3 linked regions of the Homo sapiens genome follow. The protein of the gene in region 1 purifies or fractionates together with the protein of each later gene. This does not show direct contact. Each region holds a gene or a part of one and is shown on either strand. Other genes may lie near its edges.

Region 1 (7,026 bases):
CTTATATTTAAAAGGGAAGCACAGCATAAAAGTTCAGAAAATTTGCAACCTAACCATGAGGTAGAAAAGAAAAACCTATTTCTTGGGGGGAAATTCAAACCTGCTGCAGAAATTTGTATAAGTAACAAGGAGCCAAATATTAATAGCCAAAACAATGGGAAAAATGTATCCAAGGCATGTCAGAGACATTTGCAGAAGCCCCTCCCATCACAGGCCCAGCGGCCTAGGAGGGAAAAATGGTTTTGTGGGCCTGAGTGGCCCTGCTGCTCTGTGCAGCCTCAAGACATGGTGCCCTGCATCCAGCTGCTCTAGCTCCAGCCATGGCTAAAAGGAGCCAAGGTACAGCTCAAGCCATTGCTTCTGAGGGTGCAAGCCCTAAACCTTGGCAGCTTCCATGTGGTGTTGGGTCTGTGGGTACACAGAAGACAAGAAGAGTTTAGAAGACAAGAGTTTAACCTCCACCTAAATTTCAGAGGATGTATGGAAACACCTGAATGTCCAGGCAGAAGTCTGCTGCAAGGGAGGAGCCCTCATGGAGAACCTTTGCTAGGGCAGTACAGAAGGAAAATGTGGGGTTGAAGGCCCCACACAGTCCCCACTGGGGCACTGCCTACTGGAGTTGTGAGGAGAGAGCCACTGTCCCCCAGGCCCCAGAAAGGTAGATTCACTGACAGCTTGTATTGTACAGCTGGAAAAGCCACAGGCACTCAATGCCAGCCAGTGAAAGCAGCCATAAGGACTGCACCTTTCAGAGCTACAAGGGTAGAGCTGCCCAAGGCCATGGGAGCCTACCCCTTGGATGTGAGATATGGAGTCAAAGGAGATCATTTCAGAGCTTTAAGATTTAGTAACTGCACTGCTGGGTTTCAGACTTGCATGGGGCCTGTGGCCCCTTTGTTTTGGCCAATTTCTCCCATTTGAAACATTTAGCTAATGCCTATAGCCCTACTGTATCTTAGAAGTAACTAACTTGTTTTTTATTTTATAGGCTCATAGGCAAAAGGGACTTGCCTTGTCTCAGATGAGACTTTGGACTTGGACTTTTGGGTTAATGCTGGAATAAGTTAAGACTTTGGGGGACTGTTGGAAAGTCATGATTGGTTTTGAAATGTGAAAAAGACATGAAATTTGGGAGGCGCCAGGAGTGGAATGATATGGTTTGGCTTTATATCCCCACCCAAATCTCATCTTGAATTGTAATCCCCATGTGTCCAGGGAGGAACCCGGTAGGAAGTGATCGGATCATGGGGGCAGTTTCCCCCATGCTGTTCTTGTGATAGTGAGGGAGTTCTCAAAAGATCTGATGGCTTTAAAAGTGGCAGTTTCCCCTGCTTTCTCTCTCTCTCTTTCTCTCTCTCCTGCTGCCTTGTGAAGAAGGTTATCTACTTCCCCTTCACCTTCTGCCATAATTTTAAGTTTCCTGAGGCCTCCCCAGTCATGTGGAACTGTGAGTCAATTAAACCTCTTTCCTTTATAAATTACCCACTCTCAGGTATTTCTTTATAACAATGTGAAAACAGACTAATACAATACCTATCATTATTGACTTCTCAGCTTCTATCATTATCAAAAAGTAAATAATTGATTCATTTTTTAAAGTAAACAAGATTTTAACTCTTGAAATGTATAAGCAAATACATTTCCTCCATAACAGAATACTAATAGTTGTATACTTAGGTCAAAAATAAGTTTTTATAAGCAATGCTCAAAAACCTCAATGGATCAAATATGTTATAAAAATTCAGCAAATTGATAAACCTTGTTATTTGACTATGAGAACAAATTTTAACTCATTTTTAAATTGTGATAAGCCAACTCATTAGTCTGAAAATTAGAAATTAATATATTACATTGATTTATGTCATCTTTAAAGTCACTTTAACTCACTCTCAGTAGCACAGTGTTTTAAGTCAGAAAGCAGTGAAATAAAATTGTCAATTCACTCTTATTTTTCTATTCTCACTGAACTTTTAAAAATTTTTATTATATATTCAGCAGCATTAGAATAAGCAAAGCCAAAGGCATTTTATGGGACTCAAAAGACATAATGACCTCTGCAGACACCAGTTAAACAATAGACAGAAGAATTTGATTCCTACTTCGATGCTAGGTTTAGCAACCATTCACACAGATAATGTCCATGTTTTTCTTTCTTTTCATTTCACCAAGACCTTCACTCCTCAAAGCCTAAAATATATCTAAATCTTGGATTTCTCTTTTTTGCTTCATCTGACAACTTGAAAATTGACTGTTGGACACATAGCCATCAAGTGGTAAAGTGGGTAACTGGAAAAGTTCTAACTTGTTTTACATTTTTCAAACCCTATTATAATAAGAGCAAATAATAATACTAGCTCATATTTATTCAATGCTGGTCTGTGATACAGACTACTAATAAACTTAGTTTGCAAATAAAAACACTCAAGTTTAGGAAAAATATGTGACATACGCAAGGTCTCACAACAGGTAACTTACAAAGCTGGGATTCAAATCCAAGATTGACTAAAACCATGCTATACGTCTTTATTATATACTCTCTTCCACAGAAGAAAATGACCCATTAGTTGCTCTTCTATTTCACAACACAGCTTCCCTGAACATACTGGTGGAAAAAAAAAAAACAGAAATTGGCTATGTTCATTATCAACTTTTTTTTTTAATAACTTTCTTTTAAGACAGGGTCTCACTCTGTTGTCCAGGCTGGAGTGCAATGGCACGAACTCAGCTCACTGCAACCTCCACCTCCCATGCTCAAATGATTCTTGTGCCTCAGCCACCAAATAGCTGGGACTACAGGTGTGCACCACCACACCCAGCTAATTTTTTTATTTTTAGTAGAGGCGGGGTTTTCGCCATGTTGGCCAGGCTGGTCCCAAACTCCTGGCCTTCAGTGATCTGCCCACCTCGACCTTCCAAAGTGTTAGGATTACAGGCATGACTCACTGCACTCAGCCTCATTTATTAATTTATTCAACAAATATTTACTAGCTCCTTAAAACTCTCATTTGAGCTTAAATCCTTTTAAGTATTTTTGAGTATCTGGCATATGCAATGGACTGAATATATCCCCACAAAACCCACATGTTGAAATCTTAACCCCCCAGTGTAATGGTTTTAGGACGTAGGGCCTCTGGGGGGTAATTAGGTCATGAATGTAGAGCCCTCATGAATGGGATTAGTGCTCTTATAAAAGGGATTTCCCAAACCTCTCTCATTCTCTTTCCACCACCTGCAGATACAATGAAAAGACAGCAGTAGTCTTTGACCTAAAAGAGGGCCCTCATCAGAACCCAAACATGTGGGCACCCTGACCTTGGACTTCCAACCTCCAGAATAGTAAGAAATAAATTTCTGTTCTTTATAAGGCACCCAGTCTATAATACTTTGTTACAGCAGCCTGAACAGACTGAGGCAGAAACTGGTGCCAAGAATTAGGGGTGCTGCTGTAACAAATACCTAAAAAGGTTATCTTCATTTATTTTTCACATAACCAAGCAAAATATGTGAAACAGTAAACTCTGACTGTTGAAGCCATTTAATTGTTTTCTATTACACTAACATTCAAGGCATCCTGATACAAACGCTTACCAAAAAGTGCATTTGAAAAGAAAACGAGGAAGTCTAACTAGAATAGCAGTACGCAAAACAAATTTAAAAAATTAAAAAACAGAAGTGTGTCTTCGGTTCAAGAAATCAGCTGCAAAATCACAGAATGATGTAAAACTGGTTTAATAGCAGTTCAAATAACAAAAGAGGTAAGTGTGTTACTAGCAGACTCAAAGTAACCTAACACTAAGACATGGCTGAGAACAATGTATAGCCACTTTAGGTAATATTATTAGAGCTAGGGGCTCAAGACTATGGTGGTAAAATCTTATAAAGCTTAGCCCTTCATCACATTTCTGGAATAAATTAGGTATATGTTGAAAGGGGAGTTGAAAAACAGGATTATCAAAGGAGGCTATCAGAAGGATGAAAGACGTACAGATCATGTCATCTGAGGACAGGACAATGAAATGACAAGTGCACAGTCTGGAAGAGAGCACGATGGCTATTTTCAAGAGGTTTCCTGGACAAGAGGGGCTGGACCTGGTCTTGCCACTTCAGAGAAAGACACTAAAAGCAGCAGTTGGTTGCTATAGAAGGTAGAGTTGGGATTACAAGAAGCAGTTTCTTAATAATCAGAACAACCTAAAAGTCAAATAAGTTATCTCAAGAGAAAGTGAAATTTACTTTCACTGACAGGAAGTAAAGACTGAGTGAGCATCCATCCAGGATATCCTAGAACAGTATTTTCCAGAGAGTAGTTACACCAGAGATTATTTTAACTGGTACATACATTTATTTTATTCATTACTTACTTATCTCAATGTACACTAAAAACAAATAAATGTACATACTAAAGTAGCCATCAACCCCATTGTTTCATGAATATTACTGTTTTAGGATAAATGAAGCAACGACTTTACTTGATTGAAAGAAAAACATTAAGTCAATATATTGAATTTACCTTAACTAGCTATATTATTTTATGATGTCAGTTATCATCCTTGAATTTATATAGATAATAAAAGGCACCAAAGATTTAAGAAAAAGGAAAAAAAAAACTTCTGAAAAGAAAAATATTTTTTAAAAAAGAAAGAAGGAAAAGAAATACATTATAATACAAGTGGTATAAAAAGATGTCAAACATCACAAAAACTAGCCTGGGCAACATAGCGAAACTCCATCTCTACAAAAAAAAACAACAACAAAAAAACACACACACACAAAAATTGGCTGGGCACGGTGGCTCACGCCTATAATCCCAGCACTTTGGGAGGCCAAGGCAGGTGGATCATGTGAGCCCAGGAGTTCAAGACCAGCCTAGCCAACATGGTGAAACCCGTCTCTACTAAAAATACAAAAATTAGCAGGGCACGGTGGCGCACGTCTGTAATCCCAGCTACTCGGGTGGCTAAGACATGAGAATGGCTTGAGCCCATTCCAGAAGGTGGAGGTTGCAGTAAGCCAAGATTGCACCACTGCACTCTAGCCTGGGCAACAGAGTGAGACCCTGACACACACACACACACACACACACACACACACACACACACACACAAATTCACACAGGTTCCACAAAAGTATCTGAATTTTGGACATACTGTTCTGTAGAGATTCGTGCATTGATTATCCTGAAACTAAAATTTCTCCTTTACCAAAATTGTCTTAATATTCAGTAATTCCCTGAAAACATAGTAATTTACAACTACATTTATTCAAATAGCTATCATAATTAAAATAGAAACTAAAATTTTTCATTATTTCAGTAACAATCTTAGAAATCTTGATTGTCAATAGCTACAGCTATAAAACATCTGGACCCCTCACATAACTAATCTTTACCACAAAAGACTGATATTCTTGCATCTAATAAGCATTTATTGAGGGCCTTCTCGGGCCAGGCACTGTGGTGGACAAAAATTTGAAAGTAGATTAGCAAGTTTTCATCTGAAGGATGTACTGCTCCCTTAAGGAAAATCTTAAAACATTTAAGGTAAAAACACAAAAAGAGGATGTCTTTATGTTCACTGAAAATATACATGTATGTTAGTACAACTGAAGCCCAAACTATTTTCTATGCTATACATACACACACACAAAATCTAGACACATGAACCAGATTTAGATATAAAATCCCTTCAGTAAGTTCTGCCTCATACTCAGTATTTTATGCTCTTGCTCCAATATACTCTGAAACACCTCGGGAATCTCACTGAAGCCCCAAAGGCAATCTTGTGATGTCTATGTGAAAAGTCCACCTACCTCTACCTTAAGGCACCATGTGGCAAGCACATTCTTAGAGCACAAAGAAAGTGATGGGCCTCTCAGGAGGAAATGGTGCCAGAGTACACTGCTGGAGGTGTTCTTTCTGCCTAATGAGAAGACTGACCTTTTCTTTTCTTTCCCCACTCCTTAGGCCAAGAGGTACTTTATGTTTGAATAATCAAATAATAAGTGACATCTAGTATGTATAAGAAATGCTAACGTTTAAACTTGTCCCCTGAAGATATTTCTCCATGTGTCCATCCCCAAATGGATTTCAACCAAAGTCGAAGAAAGAAAAATAATCAGCCCAGAAAGATTTCCCTCCTACCTCCTGAGCGTGTTCTTTATAGACTTGCAGTGGCCCTGCAGCTTTGGCAGTGTCCCAGAGCTGCAGCGAGCCATCGCCACTACAGGTGATGAGGACATGTTCGTTGTTCTCACTCCAAGTCACATCAAACAAACCATCATTCCAGTCAAAGCTACACTAGGAAAAAACAAACAACAAAAAAATACAACACTTACATAGGCAGCTACACAACAAAAAAAATAACAATTATGGTTTTTTTTCTTTCAATTTATCACACATTTTAACACGTATATCTCATGTAATCTGCACAACTACGGGAGTTAAGTAGAGTAGGTACTTGACAAATATGGCAACAGATTCAGAAAGGTTAAAAAAAACAGTCCAGTGGAATGTAGTAGTCCAAAAATGTAATAGTACACAGTATACTGCTCCACATTTTTTTATGTTTAAATTTTATAATTTATGAGTGGACACTAAGAGACAGGCTTCAGATTTGTTTTGTTTTTTATTTGAGAGAAAGAGTCTTGTTCTGTCATCCAGGCTGGAGTGTAGTGGCCCAATCACAGCTCACTACAGCCTTGAACTGGACTCAAGCAATCCTCCCACCTCAGCTTCCCAAGTAGCTGGGACTACGGCCTAAAAATTAAAAAAATTTTTAGGCTGGGCCCAGTGGCTCACGCATATAATACCCACTTTGGGAGGCCAAGGTGGGCAGATCACCTGAGGTCAGGAGTTTGAGACCAGCCTGGCCAAAATGATGAAACCCCATCTCTACTAAAAAATACAAAAATTAGCCGGGTGTGGTGGCGGGCACCTATAATCCCAGCTACTTGGGAGGCTGAGGCAGGAGAATCACTTGAACCCAGGAGGGGAAGACTGCACTGAGCCAAGATGGCGCCACTGTACTC
Region 2 (7,026 bases), on another chromosome or scaffold:
CAGCTACCTGAGACGCTGAGGCAGGAGAATTGCTTGAAACCAGAAGGTGGAGGTTCCAGTGAACCAAGATCGCACCACTGCACTCCAGCCTGAGCGAAAGAGCAAAACTCCATCTCAAAAAAACAAACAATCAAACAAAAACCACATCCTTCCGAGCTAACAGGCAGAATTAAATAAAATTTTAATTTAATTTAAAAGCTGGCCAGGCGCAGTGGCTCACGCCTGTAATCCCAGCACTTTGGGAGGCTGAGGCGGGTGGATCACCTGAGGTCAGGAGTTTGAGACCAGCCTGACCACATGGAGAAACCCTGTCTCTACTAAAAATACAAAAAAATTAGCCAGGCATGTTGGCACATGCCTGTAATCCCAGCTACTAGGGAGGCTGAGGCAGGAGAATCACTTGAACCTGGGGGGCAGAGGTTGCAGTGAGCCGAGATCACGTGATTGCACTCCAGCCTGGGCAAGAAGAGTGAAACTCTGTCTCAAAAAAAATAAATAAAAGCTACTAGCCGGGCGCAGTGGCTCACGTCTGTAATCCCAGCACTTTGGGAGGCTGAAGTGGGTAGATCACTTGAGGCCAGGAGTTTGAGACCAGCCTGGCCAACATGGTGAAACCCCGTCTCCACTAAAAATACAAAAATTAGCTGGGCGTGGTGGTAGGTGCCAGTAATCCCAGATACTTGGGAGGCAGAGGCAGGAGAATCACTTGAACCTGGGAGGCAGAAGTTGCAGTGAGGCAAGATCATACCATTGCACTCCAGCCTGGGTGACAGAGCAAGACTCTGTCTCAAAAAATAAATAACTAAGTAAATAAATGTAAAAGCTACTAACATACTCAACTGAGAATGTTTCTGTAGAAAAATACAAATACATACATTAACGTCTCCCTGTGTTCATGTGAATTAAAGCAAAAGTGAATGTTGTGATTTCAAGCTACAAAAACATCCAACTGTAGAGACAAAATATATTCCACACCAATATAAAAAATGTTTATATTTAAGTCTATCACGCCTTCCTTGAACTAAGAATCAGTAGAGCCCAGTTGTAACTGTTCCTGATTACGCAACTAAGATGAGAGATTAAACGTGCTTCCGTCCTCATACACAGGCAGAAGTGAACTTGACCCACCATCGTAACAGGAGTCCAGGAAATAGACACTCTCTCCAACAGAAATGCGCCTCCCATCTCTCACTGCCCCGCCTGTCTCCCAGAGCCCTTACCATCTCTTGTCAGGTTCATGCCGCCAAACACCAGAGGACCAATAAACTGAGCCTTGATATCTCCTTCCAGGTAAACAAATATCGTGGGCAGATTCCTATCAGGATAATTGGGTATGCAGGTTGTTGAAATGGCTTTGATAAATTTGACATCAGGAAACTTCCTGGCAAGTCCACTGAGGTGCTGATTTATCAGGGCACAGAGGGGAATTCTATAAAACACACATAGAAAACAGAAGCAATTATGATCCTACATTTATACAGAACAAAGCTCAATGACCCTTCTACCCTAAGTAAAACCTTGTAACAGTTTCACAAGTAATTCTGCTGCTAGCTAAGATGAATTAACATGTTTTTTTTGACATAGGGTCTTGTTTTCACCCAGGCTAAATGGAGTGAAGTGGTGTGATCTCGGCTCACAAGCAATGCTCCCACCTCAGCCCCCCAAGTAGCACTTTGGGAGGCCAAGGTGAGTGGATCATGAGGTCAGCAGTTCAAGACCAGCCTGGCCAAGATCATGAGGTCAGGAGTTCAAGACCAGCCTGGCCAAGATGGTGAAACCCCATCTCTACTAAAAATACAAAAATTAGCTGGGTGCAGTGGCAGGCGCCTGTAATCCCAGCTACTCGGGAGGTGTGATTACAGGCACACACCACCATGCCCAGCTGATTTTTTTTTTTTTTTTTTGTAAAGACAGGGTTTCACCACGTTGCCCAGGCTGCTCTTGAACTCTTGAGCTCGAGATCCGGCCGCAATGGCTTCCCAAAGTGCTGGGATTACAGGTATTACAGGTGTAAGCCACCATGCCCAGCTGAATTAACATTTCTTAAAAACTTCCTAATATGCTGAGGGAAAGTGAAGAACACAAATCCAAAGTCCAATTTATTTGACAAAACAAGTCAGAAAAACAGCTTCAATGTAAAAGATAAAATTGCTATACATTTCTTATAAGGTTGAATGAGAAAACGCTGAAGGTTTAGAAAGTATGAAATGTCAGAAAACGTTTTCTGCTTTAAAGAAATTCCTGGCCAGGTGCAGCGGCTAACGCCTGTAATCCCAGCACTTTGGGAGGCCAAGATGAGTGGATCATGAGGTCAGGAGTTCAAGACCAGCCTGGCCAAGATGGTGAAACCCCGTCTCTACTAAAAATACAAAAATCAGCTGAGTGCGGTGGCAGGCGCCTGTAATCCCAGCTACTCAGGAGCAGAGGCAGGAGAATCGCTTGAACCTGGGAGACGGAGGTTGCAGTGAGCCGAGATCATGCCACTGCACTCCAGCCTGGTCAATGGAGTGAGACTTTGTCTCAAACAAAAAAAAAAAAAAAAAAGAAATTCCTAAATAAGCACTGGACTCTACAGTTTAAGACAAGACTGGAGAGCTGAGAAAAATCAGAGGCCCTCAGTATCACACAGTTCAGGCAATTACTACTGTAAAGGCCAACCTTGCCATCTATGAGATAAATTCATTACATAGAATGTTGAAATGTCAGAGTTCCTGTAAAGGAATAAATAACTTAGGAATTCCTTTTCAAAAACAGAAAAGCATAGTCTTCATTGCTATACTTTAACAAAGGCATTCATATTAGTCACAAATTATTAACTTGAAAGTCTTAAGATAAAAAAATTAAGTAATAAGGTTTGGGCAAACCAGCAAAAAAAACACAAAAAACTCAGTACCAGAAAAATTTTTTCTGAGACAAAGTCTCGCTCTGTCGCCCAGGCTGGAGTGCAGTGGCGCAATCTCGGCTCACTGCAAGCTCCGCCTCCCGGGTTCATGCCATTCTCCCACCTCAGCCTCCCAAGTAGCTGGGACTATAGGCGCCCGCGACCACGCCCAGCTAATTTTGTTTTTGTATTTTTAGTAGAGACGGGGTTTCATCGTGTCAGCCAGGATGGTCTTGATCTCCTGACCTCATGATCCACCTGCCTCAGCCTCCCAAAGTGCTGGGATTACAGGTGTGAGCTACTGCGCCTGGCCCAGAAAAAAAAATTTCTTAACCCTCTGATATAGGTAACGCCTGAGATCCTGAAGACATAAATTCAAATTAACATTTGATAGATGGAGTGGAAGATCAGCTCACCCTTGTTTGTAAAGGTGCAAGATGACCCACAAGCCCTCGCCAGCTTTGGTAACTTCTTGAACATAATCCTTCCCTGAGATCTCCAAAACTTCTCCGAATTTATTCTTCAGTTTAGTTGCTTTCCACTCAGCCAGTCTCCGCCGTCTGCACAAAACAAGGAGAGAAACATCTTACGTCACAAACACGTGTACACACACATCGTCTAGAAGGCAATCCTTGTAAAAGCCCAGGTTTATTTATTGGTCTTATGGCAAAAATCTAAGATCAGTTTGCTAAAATTCACAATATTATTTAATTGCAGTCGCTCCTAGATGTTTCAGCTGAAAATTAATTTTTTGAAGGACACACATTTCATTTTATTTTTTGAGACAGAGTTTGGCTCTGTCACACAGGCTGGAGTGCAGTGGCACAGTCTCAGCTCACTGCAACCTCCACTTCCAGGGCTCCTGAGTAGCTGGAACTATAGCCGTTCACCACCACACCCAGCTAGTTTTTGTATTATTTATAGAGACGGGGTTTCACAGGCTGGTCTCAAACTTCTGAGCTCAAGCGATCTGCCTGCCTCAGCCTCCCAAAGTGTTGGGACTACAGGTATGAGTCACCATGCTCAGCCCACACATTTTATTGCCACGCCAAAAAAAAAACCAAAACAAAACAAACAACAACAAAAAAACAAACAGCCCCTCTGGGTGGCGCTTACCTGTACATTTCAATAGCACGTTCATCCTCCTCATTAAACTCGTCTTCATGATCCTCCAGCTCTTCCAAAGTCATATCTTCATATGTTTTCACTGAATTTGGTTACATTGGCAAAAAGCAAAAATTTAAAAAGATGAACGAACATGTATTTTTCTTTTTTCCCCTCTCTTTTCTCCTAAAGATATGCACACAACACCAGATCCTTAGCCTACCTAAACAAAAATTACTTAAGGCACCACACTACATTAGAAGCTGAGAGGCCAGGCATGGTGGCTCACACCTGTAATCCCAATTTATTGACTGACAACATTTTACCCAAGCCCTCAGATCCTCCTCCCCTCTCTTCTCCTATTCCGCCTCACCCTGCCCCGCTTATTTTCCTTTTTTTGGAGACAGAGTTTCACTCTTGTCATCCAGGCTGGAGTGCAATGGTGCGATCTTGACTCACTGAGAACCTCCGCCTCCCAGATTCAAGCAATTCTCCTGCCTCAGCCTCCTGAGTAGCTGGGATTACAGGCGTGTGCCACCACACCCAGCTAATTTTTGTATCATTAATAGAGACAGGGTTTCACCATGTTGGCCAAGCTGGTCTTGAACCTTCTGACCTCAAGTGATCTGCCCATCTCAAAGTGCTGGGATTACAGGAGTGAGCCAGCCGCCCTACTGTTGAACCCTTTGCTGATTAAAATTCCCCAGGCTCAAACCTTTGACTACTTTTCTTCTTTATCCACACCCACTCCCTCGGTGATTGCATCTAATCTCATGGCTTTCAGTGCTATCAATATGCTGACAACTCCCAAAGTATAGGCCTCCAGCCCAGACTTCTCTAATGTAGAGAAAAACATACCCAAGGGCCCTCTTAATGTGGCTATTTGTCTAATAGGGATCTCCAAGTTAATGCATCCCTTGGCTGGGTGCAGTGGCTCACGCCTATAATCCCAGCTCTTTGGGAGGCTGAGGTGGGCGGATCACTAGAGGTCAGGAGTTTGAGACCAGCCTGGCCAACATGGTGAAACCTCATCGCTACAAAAAATTACCTAGGCGTGGTGGCACATGTCTGTAATCCCAGCTACTCGGGAGGCTGACGCAGGAGAATCGCTTGAACCTGGGAGGCGGAGGTTGCAGTGAGCCAAGATTGCGCCACTGCAGTCCAGCCTGGGTAAGAGAGCGAGACTCCATCTCAAAAAAAAAACAAAAAAGAGAAAATGTCACTCTTCTGTTTAAACATCCAAAAGCTTCCTGCCTCATTAGGTGTAAAGGCCAAGGTCCTTACTAGAAGCTTCTGGGTCTGCTGAGGCTGCTCTGAACTCTCTCCCCCAGCGCCTCCAGCTCCTCAGGGATTCCCAGCCATGCCAGGGCCCATATTTCACTCGCTCACGTCACCCCCTTCAGGAATACCCAGATGTCTTCTTCACCTCCTTCAGGTCTCAACAACTCCCTCAGGTCTATTCAAATGTGTTCTTCAGCTCCTTCAGGTCTTTACCCAAATGCCAGCTTCACCTCCTTCAGGTCCATGCAAATGTCATCTCAGTGAGGCCCTCTCTGAGCCTGCTTCTCCTCCAACCCTTTCTAGTCCCTTTTACTGCCTTATTTTCTTTATTGTTTATTGTCTGTCTCCCCCACTTGAATGTTGGTTCTCTGAGGGCAGAGAATTGTCTCTGGCTTATGCATAGCTAAATCCCCAACCCCAGAAAAGCACCTGACAATGATAATCATGCAGTAAGCACTCGCTGGATACTTTCTAATAAATCCTTCTCTAAATTAGCTCTAATGTGTCAACAGAGGACAAAAGTACTAGTCCCTGGGACCAGTGCTTCTCAAACTATGACACGCATCAGAATCCTTTAAGGCACTTGTTTAAAATGCAGATTCCTGGGCCTCATTCCAGAGACTGCTTCAGTAAACACTAGGTGGGTGGGGTTACCAGCACTCCAAGGGACTCCAATTCAGACAGTACAACTGCCTTTGAGAAAACCCCCCTCAGACTCCCACACATTGCAAACATCTTATGCCTCCCCAAATGAAGCAATTTTTAGTTAATATCCTCAATGAAACCACAGAAAATAAAGTATATGCTCAGGAAAATACAAGTACTAAAAACCTTGAACAAATTTCCATGACATTATCAAAGGGAATCACAGACCAGAAAGCAGAAAGAAGTATTTTCTTCAGTGCTCATGTGACATGGACAAGGACTTGTGGGACATATCTGAAGTCCCCTAAGTCTATGGCTCAGGAAGGTGAAGGTGAGAGACGCCCTGTGTTTTGTCTGAGGTCCCACAGACACAGAGTGTCCATGCTGGCACTCCAACCTGTCTCCTGGCAGGGCAGTCAGAGGCTTAGGGAGCCATCTCCTAACCCAGACAGGTGCAGAGGAAAGCGAGTGAACTCACCCACTGACTGCTGGAGGATGCGCTGCTCCTCTTCTGCCTCCTCTTCCAATTCTTTCAGACTTTCCTTGGGGGGTAAGATACCCTTTTTGCGTAAGATGTCATTCCATTCAGTGTCTGCGTTGGGGTCCTAGAAGAGCGGGACCAAGGTTACCATGAGTGCTAAGTCTAGTATGTAGGGTGCCACGTTGGGCAAGGGGCCAAATGGGAAAAGTGACAGGAAGGGAGGAATGCACACCAGTCTGTGAACTATTTCTGAGAAAGTGTCAAAAGATCCATAGCCCCCGTTTTGTTTTTCCTGTCTACCCCTCCCTGAATGGAGGAGCTATTCTTGGGGTAAAAATTAGGATAGGGAGTGCAGATCAGTATCAATACGGATACCAAGGCTCTGACTTGGCATGTGTTCAATATTTTTAATAATGACTGAGAGTGCCGGGCACAGTGGCTCACGCCTGTAATCCCAGCACTTTGGGAGGCTGAGGCAGGCGGATCACGAGGTCAGGAGATAGAGACCATCCTGACTAACACGGTGAAACCCCGTCTCTACTGAAAATACAAAAAATTAGCCGAGCGTGGTGGCGGGCACCTGTAGTCCCAGCTACTTGGGAGGCTGAGGCAGGAGAATGGCATAAACCCGGGA
Region 3 (7,056 bases), on another chromosome or scaffold:
AAGTACATAAAAATAAAATTTTTCATCCAGGAAAAGAACAAAAGAATATAAAGTCAAAAGACAACAACAAACTGAAAGAAATATTTACCACTCATATCACAGATTAATTTCCTTTATAGCTCCCCAAGAAGAAAAAAAACACCTAATTTTTTAAATGAGCAAAGGATATAAAAATCTCTCTTAAAATTATGAAAAGAAGTTTAGGTTCCCTCTTAAAAATAAATATGGGCCCAGTGCATTGGTTCATGCCTATGGGACGCTGAGGCAGATGATCGCTTGAGGCCAGCAGTGTGAGGCCAGCCTGGGCAACAAAGTGAGACCCCATCTCTACAAAAAATAAAGAAATAAATTAGCTGGGCACGGTGGCAAGCGCCTGTGGTCCCAGCTACACGTGGTCCCAGCTTTTTAAGAGAGGAACCTCATGGAAGCTGAGGCAGAAGGATCATTTGAGCTCAGGAAGTTGAGGCTGCAGTGAGCCATTATGGCACCAAGGCACTCCAGCCTGAGCAACAAGGTGAGAACTTGTCTTAAAAAACAAAAAAACAAAACAAAACAAAAAAAAGGTGGTGGGGGCGGAAATAAACCTACAATGAATTACTACAATAGCAAAGATCAAGGAGTTTCATAACACAGTAGGAGGTCAAGTGTACGGAGAAACACAGATTGCTGATTAAACTATAAACTACTGCCACCTCAACTCAACTGACAGCAATTTGACAATATTAAAATGTACAAGTGTAAATATGCCATTTTTAGGAATTTGCACTACCCATATACTCATACTTGTGATTTATGAGATATCAAACTGTTAATACGAGATGCAGGATTCAAATCCAGGCCAGTCTGTGTTCATTACCATGCTGCTATGCACATACATTTGTATTGTGCACTAAAAGGCTAGAAGCACACATAATGAAAAGACTAGGTTACCTCTGAAAGTGGGACCAGAGTTAAAAGTGATCAGGAGAATTAATTTATTAATATGTATTTAATTAATATGTATTTAATGTACATTTTTTAAGCCTGTTCCCAGAGCCCAGGGTTTCTCAGTACCTGTGTTAACTGAGATGCCTTCGCCTGCCAGCTCAGCCTCTGCAGGCACAGAACTGCTGGCTGGGGCACATCTGCCTCGGTCCTTGTCCTCGTGGTCACTGTCCTCATCCTCACTGCTGCTATAGTAGTACTGCAGTTTCTCCCCCAGCAACTTATCATCAAGGGTGGTCATGGTGTCTGGAAAAAGAAAGCATATCAGGTTCTTTGCTGATTTGAGCCAGACAGACATGAATCTGAAGCATAGGGGGCTCGCCTGTGCTGAGATCCTACAATTTCCAGGACACTAAAGTGATTATTTTCATAACCAAAATCTTAACAAATCCCTACCGTTACCCTGTGTGTTAGGGCTTATCACACTCTTTAACAGAAGGTAAAACTGAAGCTCAGATAAAGGAAGAGTCTTCACCAAGCTTAACAGCGAATGACGGAGCTGGGACCAGACCCCAGGGATTCCTGACTCCAAGAGCCTGAGGTATAAATTACTCTAGTCTGAGTTAAGTGTACAAGCCACCTGCACTGGCTTGGAGGAATCTACTGACTAGTGGTTTTATCTGTGCTTTTAGTTTTCCCACCAGCTAAGACTGCTGCCTAATTGAAAAATTGTTTAAGTATCCTCAGGAAAAACCCCAAAAAGAGGCATCAAGAGTACAATGCTGAGTCACTATTTGTCTAGGCAATCACTCTCTGTCACCAGCCTTCAACTTCCCAGACAACACCCTGAGGGCTTGGATGGATGGTCTCTGAAACGCTACCTATTCTGACAGTTTAAAAGAAGGGCCCATACAAAGATTTTAATAACTCCCAAGGGTTTAAAGGACTATGATGGCCGGGCTCGCGCAGGTAATCCCAGCACTTAGGGAGGCCGAGGAGGGAGGATCACTTGAGACCAGGTATTCGAGACCAGCCTGGCTAACATGGCGAAACTCTTGTCTCTACTAGTAAAAGCAAACAAACAAACAAACAAAAATTAGCCAGGTGTGGTGGCGGGTGTCTGTTTTCCCAGCTACTCAGGAGGCTGAGGCACGAGAATCTCTTGAATCCGGGAGGCGGAGGTTGCAGTGAGCCAAGATCACGCCACTGCACTCCAGCCTGGGAGACAGAGCGAGACTCTGTTTCAAAAAAAAATAAAAACTAAAAATATAAAGGACCAGGCTTCTGCATCAGAAGTAGCCAAGGGCATTCTGATGAAAAGATGCAGCTTAGCCCCCAGAGGCCTGCTTGAGAATTCAGCAGGAATGCGGCTGCCTTAAAGACTTATCACCGGGCCTATCATACTCCATTTACAAAGTGACTCTCTCCCACCGGGCAAGGAGTTCTTGAACGTAGGGACCTCTAGTCACTACCTCTATCCCCAAAGCCCAGCACAATGCCGCTGCACAATTTGCTAAACTCGCAGCCTGGGTCAACGGGAGAATCGGAGGACTCCAGCAGTCAGATGCAAAGGAGACAGGGATCATGGAGAGACAGGTGGAGGTGCCAAGAAGGAACAAAACCAAACTTAAGGCCCAGGAATGGGCCAAGCGGGGGACACAGCAGCGGCGGAGGGGAGGGAAGGAGTTGCGCTCCTAAAGGAGGGACCGCTGCGGGGAGGAGACGAGGGCGGGCCCCCTGGAGACGCGAGCAGAGGAGGCGGGGCCCCCGGACGGGAAGCAGAGGGGTGTGTGGAGCTTTTGGGGGAAGGCTGGAAGGGCCCGGGGGAGGTGGGGCCAGAGGAGGAAAGGGGACGAGGAAGACGCGGAGAACTTGGGGGTCGAGACAGAGCGAAGAAGGGGCAGTTTTACCCAAGCTCGCCAACCCCACTCCCTCCCGTAGTCCGCAGCTGCTGCCGCTTCCCGGTGGACCCCAATGCAGTTACCTGCCCTAGCTCGCTCCGGATCCCTTTGGGCCAGCAGCTCCGGGCGCCGGAAGGAATGGAGCACTTTCTTAAGAGGAAGAGCAGTGGGTCAGCGCCCTGAGCGCTAAAGAGAAAAGCCGCCGAAGCCCGACAGCGCGGACCAATGAGGCGGCCTTCCTGCGTCGTGGCGGACGCGCATTGTCCAATCAGAAGCCGCTACTCCCAGCTGAGGGGCAGGGGAGAAGCTACGGGTCCTACCTTGGAACAAAACACCTCGACAACAACGCTCTCCTAATTGCTTTGTTTTGGTTTTAATCTGCACAACAAAAAAGTGAATTGTATGACCCAGCGTCAAGCAATAAGAAAAATGTATTCACAGGCCGGGCGCGGTGGCTCACGCCTGTAATGCCAGCACTTTAGGAGGCCGAGGCGGGCGGATCACTTAAGGTCATGAGTTCAAGACCAGCCTGGCCAACACGTTGAAAACCCGTCTCTACTAAAAATACAGAAATTAGCCGGGCCTGGTGGCCGACGCCTGTAATCCAAGCTACTCGGGAGGCTGAGGCAGGAGAATCGCTTAAACCCAGGAGGCAGAAGTTGAAGTGGGCCGAGATCGCGCCACTGCACCCCAGCCTGGGCGACAGAGCGAGACTGTCTCAAAAAAAAAGAAAGAAAGAAAAGAAAAATGTATTCACTTCCCTTCGAAGTTTCCGAAGCCATTCAAAGTGTGTTTTTTATTGGTTCTTCATCGCATCACGTCTATTAGACGGAAAAGTGACTCAGAGACGTTCGGTAATTTGCCCGAGAGCACAAATCCCTCAAGTACAGGGCATAGATTAAAATATATATATATATTTTTTTGACGGAGTTTCGCTCTTCTTGCCCAGGCTGGAGTGCAGTGACGCGATCTCGGCTCACTGCAACCTCCGCCTCCCGGGTTCAAGAGATTCTCCTGCCTCAGCCTCCAGAGTAGCTGGGATTACAGGCGTCCGCCAGCAGACCCGGCTAATTTTTTCTATTTTTAGTAGAGACGGGGTTTCACCATTTTAAAGAAGCGGCAGCCAGGAGTGGTGGCGCGCGCCTGTAGTCCCAGCTACGCAGGAGGCTGAGGCGGGAGGATCGCTCAGCCCAGGACTTGGAGGCCAGCCTGGGTGACAGAGCAGGAATGTAATGTGAAATCCGGAATTGGCTCCTGGTATAGAAAAAGGACATGGGGCCGGGTGCGGTGGTTCACTCCTGTAATCCCAGCACTTTGGGAGGCCGAGGCGGGCAGATCACCTGAGGTCAGGAGTTCGAGACCAGCCTGGCCAACATGGCGAAACCCCGTCTTTACTAAAAATACAAAAATTAGCCGGGCATGGTGGTGCACACTTGTAATCCCAGCTACTCGGAGGCTGAGGCAGGAGAATCGCTTGAACCCGGGAGGCGGAGGTTGCAGACAGCTGAGATCGCACCACTGCACTCCAGCTTGGGGGTCAAGACTGAGACTCCGTCTCAAAAAAGAAAAATAAAAAGGACATGAATGGGACAACTGACGAAATTTGAATAAGGCCTATTAATTCATATTAGTAGTATTGTATCAATAGTTTTAATAATTATACTATGTAAGATGTGAACTTTTGGAGATTCTATTAGATGAAGAATCTAGGGAAGCACTATCCTATTTTTGCAACTTTGTTTTCTTCTTCCAGGGTAAAGCCATACTATGATATTTTGCAACTTTTTTTTCTTTTTCCTCAGGCATACTTTGTCGTCTGTTTTTGCAACTTTTTTAAAACCTAAAATGATTTCAAATTCTGAGCCCTTGTTGAAGTATCCAATACACAACCGTGAAGTTGCTCATAGAAAGCTTTGGGTAAATTGAATCATAGAAAATATTCTAGAAAGATACACTGTTTAAAATAGGGCTCTTAATTTGGGGTAGGGGATCTTAATTTGTGGTTCTAGGACCACCTGAAATTGTCTGCAAATTTCTGTACCTGCCTGTTTTCAGAGAGGCTGTTTGCTGAGGCCCTCAGAGGAGTCAAAAAATACCACACACAAACACACACCCATTCAAGAATACTGTATTAATAAGTCCGTTTTCATACTGCTGTAAATAAATAACCCAGTGTCAGGCAGTTCATACTGCTATAAAGAACTGCCCGACACTGGTTTATTTATTTATTTATTTATTTAAGACGGAGTCTTACTCTGTTGCCAAGGCTGGAGTGCAGTGGCGCAATTCTCGGCTCACTGCAATCTCCGCCTCCCAGGTTACAGGCTCCCGCCACCACGCCCGGCTAATTTTTGTATTTTTTAGTAGAGACGGGGTTTCACCGTGTTAGCCAGGATGGTCTCGATCTCCTGACCTCGTGATACACCCGCCTCGGCCTCCCAAAGTGCTGGGATTACAGGCGTGAGCCACCGCGCCCGGCCATATTCAACCTTTTTTAAAAAAAGTAGAAATGGGGTCTTGCTATGTTGCCCACGTTGGTCTCAAATTCAGACCTTTTAATATATTCAGTCTCCTGGTTGTATAGATATAGTGATGTCTTTGTTGGGAATGTAGCTTGCATCTGTCAGGAATATGTGTACATGAGTTAGCTATCTAATAATATCCAACAGAACCACTCATTTTTCCTGTTAGAAATGTGGAATGGGCCAGGCATGGTGGCTCACACCTGTAATCCCAGCACTTTGGGAGGCCGAGGTGGGCAGATCACGAGGTCAAGAGATCAAGACCATCCTGGCCAATATGGTGAAACCCCGTCTCTACTAAAAATACAAAAATTAGCTGGGCATGGTGGCGCACGCCTGTAGTCTCAGCTACTGGGGAGGCTAAGGCAGGAGAATCGCTTGAACCCAGGAGGTGGAGGTTGCAGTGAGCTGAGATTATGCCACTGTACTCCAGCCTGGCAACAGAGTGAGACTCCGTCTCAAAAAAAAAAAAAAGAAATGTGGAATGATGTGGATAATGAAGTTTCTGTTTAATGAGCATACTGTATGTAATTTATAGTTTTAAAGGTATTTTACCGCTACTGTAAGGTTTTTGTTGGGCTGTTTATCAGTAGAGTATATTAAAGGTATTCCCTAGTGGGGAAAACAACCCATGAGCTGTCTTGTGACGGCTAAAGCATTTATCTTTAAGCAAGGGAAACCTTGATCCAACCAGATTTATAGGCTATTTTTAAAAATATTTAAAATTTTGAAGTAACTGAATGAAATTCATATATAAGTGATTAAATAGGCCGGGCACGATGGCTTATGCCTGTAATCCCACCATTTTGGGAGGCTGAGGCAGGCAGATCATTTTAGGCCAGGAGTTCAAGACCAGCCTGGCCGACATGGTGAAACCCCATCTCTACTAAAGATACAAAAATTAGCCGGGCTGAGTGGAGCATGCCTACTGTAATCCCAGCTACTTGGGAGGCTGAGGCAGGAGAATCACCTGAACCCGGTAGAAGGAGGTTGCAGTGAGCTGAGATCATGCCACTGCACTCCAGCCTGGGAGACAGAATGAGACTCCATCTCCACAAAAAAATAAATAAATAAATAGCTAGATAAATAAATAAAATAAATGATTAAATTCCTTGAAGCATGAGTTCCAAGACTTGATCCACTCTTACAGTTTTTCCAAATCATAACAGAGGCAAAACAAGATTTGGTCTTACAATGAGTTTCTCATGTTAGATTTTTTCTACCAATATTTTTGTAAATTTAGAACAAATTTGTCCTGTTACTTTATTTTTTCTATAAGAATTAAAGGTCCAGAGATGATTTTGAATGACACCAAACCATATGAGGACTGTTTGAGATAAACAGCTTGCCCATCTGTCTTGTCTTTTCTTTCTTTTTCTTCATTTCCTGAATTCTTTTATTTTTCTTTTCCTTCCCTTCCTTTCTCTTCCCTTGTGCCTTTTCTGCTCCCTCTCCTTTTGTCCTTTCCCCTCCCTTGTTTCTCTTTCTTTCTCTCTCACCTTAACTTTCCTTCTCTGGTGGTGGTGGTGGTGTGTGTATGGCAGGGTGTTCCATCTGTTGCAACAGAATGTCTTTCTTATTTAAAAATCAGATTAAACAACCTTTTTTTTTTCTTTTTTGAGACAGAGTCTCGCTCTGTCACCCAGGCTGGAGTGTAGTGGTGCGATCTCGGCTCACTGCAACCTCCGCCTCACAGTTTCAAACAATTC

What was found.
Region 2: the proteins of PEX7 (region 1) and PDCL3 purify together in Homo sapiens (affinity purification with mass spectrometry; 4 studies listed by BioGRID and IntAct, with this or other methods). This does not show direct contact.
Region 3: the proteins of PEX7 (region 1) and PDCL purify together in Homo sapiens (affinity purification with mass spectrometry; 4 studies listed by BioGRID and IntAct, with this or other methods). This does not show direct contact.

What each region holds. Positions count from the first base shown.
Region 1 is NC_000006.12:136,825,583-136,832,608, reverse strand, and holds part of PEX7 (peroxisomal biogenesis factor 7), read right to left. Parts: intron 6,291-7,026; coding exon 6,140-6,290; intron 1-6,139. UniProt on the Homo sapiens protein: Receptor required for the peroxisomal import of proteins containing a C-terminal PTS2-type peroxisomal targeting signal. Specifically binds to cargo proteins containing a PTS2 peroxisomal targeting signal in the cytosol.
Region 2 is NC_000002.12:100,565,993-100,573,018, reverse strand, and holds part of PDCL3 (phosducin-like protein 3), read right to left. Parts: intron 6,517-7,026; coding exon 6,390-6,516; intron 4,089-6,389; coding exon 3,998-4,088; intron 3,442-3,997; coding exon 3,298-3,441; intron 1,430-3,297; coding exon 1,221-1,429; intron 1-1,220. UniProt on the Homo sapiens protein: Acts as a chaperone for the angiogenic VEGF receptor KDR/VEGFR2, increasing its abundance by inhibiting its ubiquitination and degradation.
Region 3 is NC_000009.12:122,825,563-122,832,618, forward strand, and holds the start of PDCL (phosducin-like protein), read right to left. Parts: upstream 3,027-7,056; 5' UTR 2,909-3,026; intron 1,231-2,908; 5' UTR 1,226-1,230; coding exon 1,054-1,225; intron 1-1,053. UniProt on the Homo sapiens protein: Acts as a positive regulator of hedgehog signaling and regulates ciliary function.